Linked DNA regions of Homo sapiens. The protein of the gene in region 1 purifies or fractionates together with the protein of each later gene. This does not show direct contact. Each region holds a gene or a part of one and is shown on either strand. Other genes may lie near its edges.

What was found. Proteins that work in one complex are often made in the same cells at the same time.
Region 2: the proteins of SIK3 (region 1) and YWHAE purify together in Homo sapiens (affinity purification with mass spectrometry; 4 studies listed by BioGRID and IntAct, with this or other methods). This does not show direct contact.

What each region holds. Positions count from the first base shown.
Region 1 is NC_000011.10:116,870,358-116,875,632, forward strand, and holds part of SIK3 (serine/threonine-protein kinase SIK3), read right to left. Parts: intron 5,095-5,275; coding exon 5,017-5,094; intron 4,911-5,016; coding exon 4,801-4,910; intron 3,700-4,800; coding exon 3,546-3,699; intron 3,280-3,545; coding exon 3,124-3,279; intron 45-3,123; coding exon 1-44. UniProt on the Homo sapiens protein: Positive regulator of mTOR signaling that functions by triggering the degradation of DEPTOR, an mTOR inhibitor. Involved in the dynamic regulation of mTOR signaling in chondrocyte differentiation during skeletogenesis.
Region 2 is NC_000017.11:1,358,723-1,362,222, forward strand, and holds part of YWHAE (14-3-3 protein epsilon), read right to left. Parts: intron 3,287-3,500; coding exon 3,180-3,286; intron 2,577-3,179; coding exon 2,370-2,576; intron 1-2,369. UniProt on the Homo sapiens protein: Adapter protein implicated in the regulation of a large spectrum of both general and specialized signaling pathways. Binds to a large number of partners, usually by recognition of a phosphoserine or phosphothreonine motif.

The sequences.
Region 1 (5,275 bases):
CCGTCTGAGCTCTCCTCGTCCACAGGGGTAACTGCTGGCACTGCCTGAAGAGAGACAGGAAGGAAAAGCTCAAGGTGGCAGCTTATTCTGTCATGCCTCTTACTCTAGTAACTGGGCTTGGGGCAGGACTTTCTGTTAACTTTCTTATTTACAGAACTTTTCTAGACTCCTGGGTTATACAGGATTTTCATATACCTATTTTTCCATTTTTACCTTGCTTAGGTAATACTAATTAGAATTTCTTCCTCTTATTTATCTTCATTCATTCATTTATTAATCTAACAAATAGCCAAATGCTTACTGTTACAGGATAAAATGTGAATTTACAGACATAGACCTTGCCCTCATTTTACAGTCTAGTAGAGGATAGAGACAAGTAAACAATTACAAAATAGCATGATCAAGTCTTCTAATGGGGGTGTTTGGGAATTAAGGAAGGCATCCTGGAGGAGGTAGCACCTAGCAGGAACCTGAAGGATGCACAGGAGCTGGTCAGGCAAAGAGGGACAGGAGTTACAGGTTTCCAGGCAGAAGAAAAGAGAAGGCCTGTAGGTGTTTGAGGACCCGAAAATACAGTAGAAGATTGTTTACCTGAAATGTCTAGGACTTGACCTGTTGTTTCATATTAATGTGATTTCCGGAGTTTAAATGTCTTAACTCCAGGAAAGCATAGTGAATTACTGAAATTACATTTTGGTACATAAGATACAATTGTGTAGTATCAATTCACTGCTTTAAAATAGTTGTTACTCGCCAAAACATGTGAGTGAAATGAGAACCACCACAATGCTTGTATCACTGTGACTTTCCCATCTGCATCCTTGCTAGCTACCCATAGCCTGGGTGCCCACATCATCACCATGCCCCAGTCACTAGAACAAAAATCACACTTCAATTATTATAAAAGAGTATTTTACAAAATGGCTAATTACAAAACAAAACAAAACAAAACACTCCTGGAATAATTTTGTCGGAAAGCTCCCAGGGTTCCTGGATCCCTTCCCACAGTTCTACAAGGGTGGAGTGAACAGGGTGAGGCAGGAAGTGGCTGTAGATGAGGCAGGAGAGGAACGCTGTGGCCAGTGACAAATGGTCTTGAATAACACACTAAGAAGTTTGAGGAAGAACAGTGGTGAATCACTAAAGGATTTTAAGCAGGGGCATGATGTTATAAAGATTTATATTTGCAAAAGCCAGCTTACTCTAGCTGCAGTGTGAAAAGGGCTGGTGGCAGGGATCAGGGGACATGACTGGAAGCAAAGAAGTCAGTTAGGATGCCGTGGTGTTCATCTACACAATGGATGACAGTGACCTGAGTTAAGGAAAGGAAAGTGGAGAGGATGTTTCATTCACAGGCACTGGACAACTGACTTGATATGGCAAATAAGAAAGACAAGAGTTAAAGATAAAATTCACATCCCTAGCTTGTGTAACCCGGAGAATGACAGTGCCATTCACTGTCACCCAAGAGGAGGAGCAGGTTTTACAGAGTCATGGTAAGTTCATTTGGGACATGCTGAATTAAAGTTGTGAATACTTGTGGAATAACCAACTAAATCTATCCCATAGGCAGTCATGTACACGTATGTGTAGAACTCAGAGGAGCATTCTGGGCTGGAGAATCAGAGAGTAACTGAAATTACAGGAGTGGACAAACTCATCCAGAGAGAGTACATCAAAGGACATGGGAATAGGGCCTAGGATAAAACTCTGGGTTTTGCCAACCTCAAGGAACAAGCAGAAAGGAAATGTGAAAAGGAGAGGTGGGGGAAAACACAGGGAATGTGGTGCCACAGACACCAAGAACAGAAAATATTTCAAGGAAAAAAGAAGTCAACAGTGATTAATACAGTTGGGACGTCCAAAAAGATAAAAGGTTAAAAATGTCCACTGAATTTATCAACAAGAACTTGTTAGCGACCTTGGCAAAAACAGTTACAGTAGACACAGTAAGTCACCCCACGTCCCATAAAGCTGACCATGATCCTTCCAAACCTGTCTTGCCCATCTCTGAATGCCTCTGCCACCTAATTTTCCATGTTATTACTGTGGTACTTAATCACATATGATCTTGTACTATTAGTCAAATACTTCACATATGTTGATCTTGTCAGTGATGGCAAGGGCTATGATATATAATTCTTTCATTACTGAAAGTGTGGCCCATGGACCCATGCCCACAAACTGTTTTGTTACCAATTCATGATAAGGTAAGTACAGAAATCAACAAAAGGCTTTCAGAAACTTTTAGCAATTTAAAAAAATAAATAAAGAGACACTTTTAGCAATTTAACAGAGTAATTTTGTCTGTTGAACTCAATAAAAAATGCCTTGTATTTTATATGTGTTTAAATTTTCACTGTTCTAATGTTTCACTTTTACTATATTTTACAAGGGATTAACCCATGATGGATTAAAGGAGGGAAAAGGGTCCTCAAAGCAGCACTGCCCTTACAACATCTCCAAGGGTGATGGATATATTTACTACCCAATCTTATGGTACTATGAGATTGAATGAATAAATGAATGAATGAATGACCTATGACAGGAAAATAAACAGAACCCAAGGGAGAAAAAAAATCTCTGAATGTGACTATCATATGAAGGACATGTGACTAAGATAACTGACTCGGCTAAAGCTGTGGGAGCAAATCATCAAGTGATCCAGGTTATGCCAAACATGTGAGGTGTGTTTATCAATGGAGAAAGCATTAGTGAAAAGGCAATTTTGGAAGCCAGTCTAGAAACCAATTAATTTAAGGGCACTTTGGCCTTCTGGCAGGGAAAGGTTGCCTGGGAGAAGGCTCTGAGTTAGGCTGCTACCTGCCCCAAGCTGGCAGGAGTGCAGCTGGACTTAACCAGGGTACCTGTGAGCGCCCATTGAGGAAAAAGCTCTCCAGGAGTGGAGTTCAATGTAGAAATAACTTGGCTAAGTAAGTAAGTTCGCCAAAAATAAAGTGTGGAAAACTCTACTGGCCTGAAGAAAATGGGCTGGAGCATCCTAAGTTTGGAGAAAAAGGAAATTCAGACATGTAGGTTGGCCCTGGGTTCCCAACCCCAGGCTCACAACCTTTTTATCAAAAGCCTCTGAGACAGTGAATTGGGCTCTGTGCTGCTACTCACTGGTGTCATGGTGACAAGCGGAGAGGGTCCCCGTGGGCGCTTCAGCAGCTGCTGGGCATGCAGTTGGATGTTGGCTCCTCCATCTGATGCCCTCCGGCCAAGGGGGCCCATTCCATTCAACAGCTGTAGCGTGGGCGGCTGTAGGAGAGACTGCTCCTGCCAGGAACAGAGTGGGGAGGACGGACCATGAGATGAGGGGAAGGCGGGGAGAAAGGGGCAAGCCACTCATCTATGGAAATTAAGGGAGCCATGGGTCATGACAGAGACTAGAGGACGCTTCCCGCTCACCCGAGCTACTTTGCAAGATAAATCATCTTTCTCTATAAGTAAACCCTTAAGTCCTAGGGAAGGTGCCTCATAGCCTCTCAAAGGAAGCTCAAGTTTGTTTCTTCTGGAGCCAGCCCTCTTCCATGTCTAGGTACCTTGTACTCAAGTTGCCCGGTTGGTTGCAAGTTTTGCATAGGCAACAGGTTGTGCATGAAGTTCACATTAGGGGCCACCTGCAGGAATGGAGCCTGGGGGTTGACTCCAGGAAAGCCAGGTAGGAGCTTCTGCAGATCTTCCATAACTTCCGTGCTGATACAAAACAGAATGACAGAGAAGTTTAGTTAACATTCTTACTCAAAAGTGCTTATATCCCAAAACTGATGGCATTGCTATGTTCAGTACAACTTATTTTATTTTCTTCCTGAATTTATGTTTCTCTTTAAGATCCTAAAGCAAAGCAAAAGCCTAAAGTGTGGAATTTAACTCTCTGCTCCTTTACTATTTGGGACGAAGGATTGCTATTCTTTATTGGCCATTCATGTAAAACCAACAGCTCTGAGCCAAGAGGAAATAGTGGCACCAGTCCAGTTCAGGTTTTCAAATCCTGGAGGTGAACACCAAGTTTCTGGAGAACATGGGCCATCCACTAAGATAATGGCTGCCTGAAGTAGCAACTGATTCACCAGGGAAAGAATGCAATTACTCTTGTCAGTGCTGATAGGACAGATAAGTACTAGATGTACAGGGCTATCTTGCTACAATGATAGGTTTTACAGCATACTTTAAAGTAAGACATCTTTCCACTAACAGAGCGACTCAGGGCTCCACCCCTTTAAAGCTATCTCAGTCTGTGGAGCCAGAATGTTCCCCTATTGCCTATTTGATCATAGGCTGAGAACAAGAGACATAAAGCAAGCACATCAGCAGGCATGGGAGTCTTTTTTGGAAATTCACTGGAAGAAAAGAGATATTTATAAGAAAACCAGCTTTGCCCTGATTTGACCTCTCAGGAGAATTCTTCCCACAACCTTCTCTTCCTACTCAGCAAAGAAAAAATCCAGAAAAGAGGTAAGGCTATTTTAATGTTGAGAGTCTTCAACCGTGGAACAAAAATGGGGCGAGCTGGCCTTCAGTCCATTTTTTCCAGTGTGCAGGCAGCAGGGAACATCATGAAAGACTATTTTGGGAAAACACTTTGGGAAACTGTTGTTATTGGATTTTGGATCCTTATTCATTTAAATTTTAATTGTCTACATACATAAGTTACATCATATCATTTGTCCACTTGGCCACTGGATTAGATCTCCTCTGGGGATACAATGTAGTAGGAAATGTGCCATGGTAGACACTGAAAGTCAGGTGACAATTCTTTGCCCCAGTGTTAGTGAGGGCTGTTGGCCGGATACTCACCGTGGGTCAGCCACACCCACTGTGTGCCTCCTCATTGACAAATAGCGCACCAATGCTTCAGGGGAAGGCTCTTCACCCTCATCACTGTCCAAATTCAGTGTCCCATCCGGCTGAGGTGGAGGGAAACACCATCGAGTTAGAAATCAGAAGGAAGGGAAGCAAGGATATGGCAAAGAAAGTGGTTTCAGCTGACAGCTCCCACAGGTTGCTACTTGCCTCCACAATTTGGTTCTCTGGGTTGATCAGCTGCACCTGGGGAACGCTGATGTTCATAGCAGTACCTGCCTGCTCCGCCTGGAAAGCAGTACATACATATACACGCATACCTTTAACACTAGAGAGAAATAATGAGTCTTTCCAAGTAGTCTTGATTGCTAAAGTCTATGTTTCCCTGATTACTAAAGTTTTTGGTTCATCGGCCCTTAGAAGTCACAACAAGGAAGCATCCTGTGAAGAGGATAGCATCGCCTCATGA
Region 2 (3,500 bases), on another chromosome or scaffold:
GAGAGGCTGAAGCACCAGAATCGCTTGAATCTGGGAGGTGGAGGTTGCAGTGAGCTGCGATCGCACCACTGTACTCCAGCCTGGCCAGCAGAGCGAGACTCCATCTTAAAAAAAAAAAAAAAAAAGGGCTGGCCAAGCACAGTGGCTCACACCTGTAATCCCAGAACTTTGGGAGGCCGAGGCGGGCAGATCACACGAGGTCAGGAGTTCGAGACTAGCCTGGCCAACACTGTGAAACCCCATCCCTACTAAAAATACAAAAAATTAGCCAGGCATGGTGGCAGGCGCCTATAATCCCAGCTACTTTGGATGCTGAGGCAGGAGAATCGCTTGAACCTGGAAGGCAGAGGTTGCAGTGGGCCAAGATCACGCCACTGCACTCCAGCCTGGGTGACAGTGCCAGGCTCTCCCTCAAAAAAAAGAAAAAAGAAAAAAAAAAGGAAAAGAAAAGGCCAGGTATGGTGGCATCCACCTCTAGTGACAGCTACTTGGAAGGCTCAGGTAGGCGAATCGGCTGAGCCCAGGAAGCCAAGGCTGCAGTGAGCTATGAGTGCACAACTGCAGAGACAGAACAAGATCCTGTCCGGAAAAAAAAGTTACCCACAGAATTTTCAGTCCCAATTCCACCTCAAGGTGAAGTTAAATACAAGGACTCAAGCAAATACTTAGTGCACCCATTTTCATAGCAGCATTGTACTCACCATAGGGAAAAGGTGGAAACCCACTGACCACCAAAAGTTTAATGACTAAACAATGTGTGCAAAATACATAAAATGAATTGTGTAAATTCAGTCACTAAAAGGACTGAAGCTCTGATCCATGCTTTTACATGGATAAAAACATTACGCTAGATGAAATAAAGACAGCCACAAAAGGACAAATATTATATGATCCCACTTACATGAGGTATCTAGAATGGGCCAAATTCATAGTGACAACGTAAAATAAAAGTTACTAGCAGCTAGGGAGAGGGGAAATGAAGTTATTGATTGTTTAATGGCTATAATTCGCTTTGTGTGGGGTGAAGAGAAAGTTTTCAAATAGTGGTGATTACACAACACTGTCAATGTATTCGGTGCCACTAAATTGTTGTGTGTGTGTGTGTGTGTGTGTGTGTGTGTGTGTGTGTGTGTAAAAGTCTCGCTTTGTCGCCCAGGCGAGAGGGAGAGGGAGACGGGGAGAGAGAGGGAGACGGGGAGGGGGAGGGGGGGAGGAGGGGGAGGGGGGGAGAGAGGGGGAGAGAGAGAGAGAGAGATTTGAAAAAAAGTCTCACTGTGTCACCCAGGCTACAGTGTACTGGTGCAATCGAGGCTCACCGCAACCTCTGCCTCCTGGGTTCAAACAATTCTCCTGTCTCAGCCTCCCGAGTAACTGGGATTGCAGGCATGCACCACCACACCCGGCTAATTTTGTATTTTTAATAGAGACAGAGTTTCACCATGTTGGTCAGGTTGGTATCGAACTCCTGATCTCAGGTGACCCACCCACCTCAGCCTCCCAAAGTGCTGGGATTACAGGCGTGAGCCACTGCACCCAGGCTATCACAACTTTTTAAAAGTAAAAAGTTATGTACGTATAAATATTCCTTACATATTTATCTACATTATCAAAAACTGGGAACAAGCTGAAGTATAAATGGGGGAACAGTTTAACACACATTAGTAAGACTGAAACTTGTTTATGCTAAAACAGAAAATATAAAATTATGTTTGCTACGAGAGTAACTATTAAAAACATGCCCATAGAAACAGAACACTGGCTGGGTGTGGTGACTCATGCTTGTAATCTCAGCACTTTGGGAGGCGAAGGCGGGCGGATCACTTGAGGTCAGGAGTTCCAGACCAGCCTAGCCAAAATGGTGAAAACACCGTCTCTACTAAAAATACAAAAAAAATTAGTTGGGCATGGTGGCAGGCCCCTGTAACTCCAGTTACTCAGGAGGCTGAGACAGGAGAATCACTTGAACCCAGGAGGTGAAGGCTGCAGTGATCTGAGATGGCGCCACTGCACTCTAGCCTGGGAGACAGAGTGAGACATGGTCTCAAATTTAAAAAAAGACTGAAAACTAATATAACAAAAATTAAAATAATTCTAATTCCTCTCATTTCCTTCCTCTACTCATTTTAACATGTTAGATTTCAATCTACCAGCAACAAAAATATCCCACATCAAAATAATTATGCTGACTGCTATGCTAGTGGGTTGAGACAGGTCTGTTTTAATACTATCCAAAGTAGTTTCAGTAAGAGCCAAAAGAATTACTATGCAGCCAAGTCTACAAAGACAGGCCCAAGAAACAACACGGAAAACCCAAACAGCGCCCCCCTTAACTTTCACGCTGAGCGCTGCTGTTCTTCCCCACAACTTACCTGCAGGCACGGTCAGGGGAATTAAGAATTTCGTAGTAGAATACGGAAAAATTGAGAGCAAGACCTAAGCGAATAGGATGCGTTGGTGGAAGTTCTGTCATTGCAATATCACTAGCAGCTTTATAAGCCACTAGGCTGTTCTCCGCAGCCTCCTTCCTGTCGTTTCCTGTGGCAAATTCTGCCAGATACCTGTGGTAGTCCCCTTTCCTAAAACAAAACCAAAATTAAAAAAAAAAAAAAAATTTAAACTAGGAACGATTTTTAAAGGAAAATAAGCTAAAATTGTTCTATATTATATAAAATGTGACAAAAATATATGTAACAATTAGGTGTACTTCAATAATTTTAAACACTCTCAGGAATAACTGGCTTCGTTTCATTTTTTTCCTTAGACATTTCATATTACTAAATATAAGCAAAAATCCCAGGAAATTAACTGAGGAGCCTCTAAAAATTAATAAAATTATCACCTGATAGACCAGAATTAAACAAGCAAGTGGTTCCAAGGAATGGCATGACAGTTTATTAATCATAAAATAAAATGTCTATATATAACACTAAGCACTGTGAAATGTATGCCGTTTGGGGGAGGGGAATGGGATAGGTCTCACAAAAACAAAAGAATATAAATAAGCAAAAGCTAATACATTTTCATAATAGCCCAACCACCTTTTCATTACAATATTAACTATCCTTCTAACATTGAACAATTATTCTTAAATAAAAGTTGAAAACCTACATAGAACAAAGTTATGGTTCTAAAAGGACCAACTTTCAATCTTACATTTTCCCTTCTAGTATAGAACCTACATTTTATAATAGAAAACCTTGGACTCGCCAGTGTTAGCTGCTGGAATGAGGTGTTTGTCCAGTACATCCAGAATGTCACAACAGATTAACTTTAGCTCAGTCTCAACCTAAAAAAAAAAAAATTTTTTTTAAATCAGATTAAGTCTAGAAATTCTACAAATTATTACATATTCTATCTCTGGTTTTGAGGTAGAGAGCTTAGTATTAAAAAGAATTTGTATCCCTCTCCAAACTCCCTTCTTCCTTCTTGACACAAAAGCAGAGAAAAGCTGCCTCTAGGTTATAAAAAGTATCTTTTCCCTTCTGCATGCTGCCTATTGT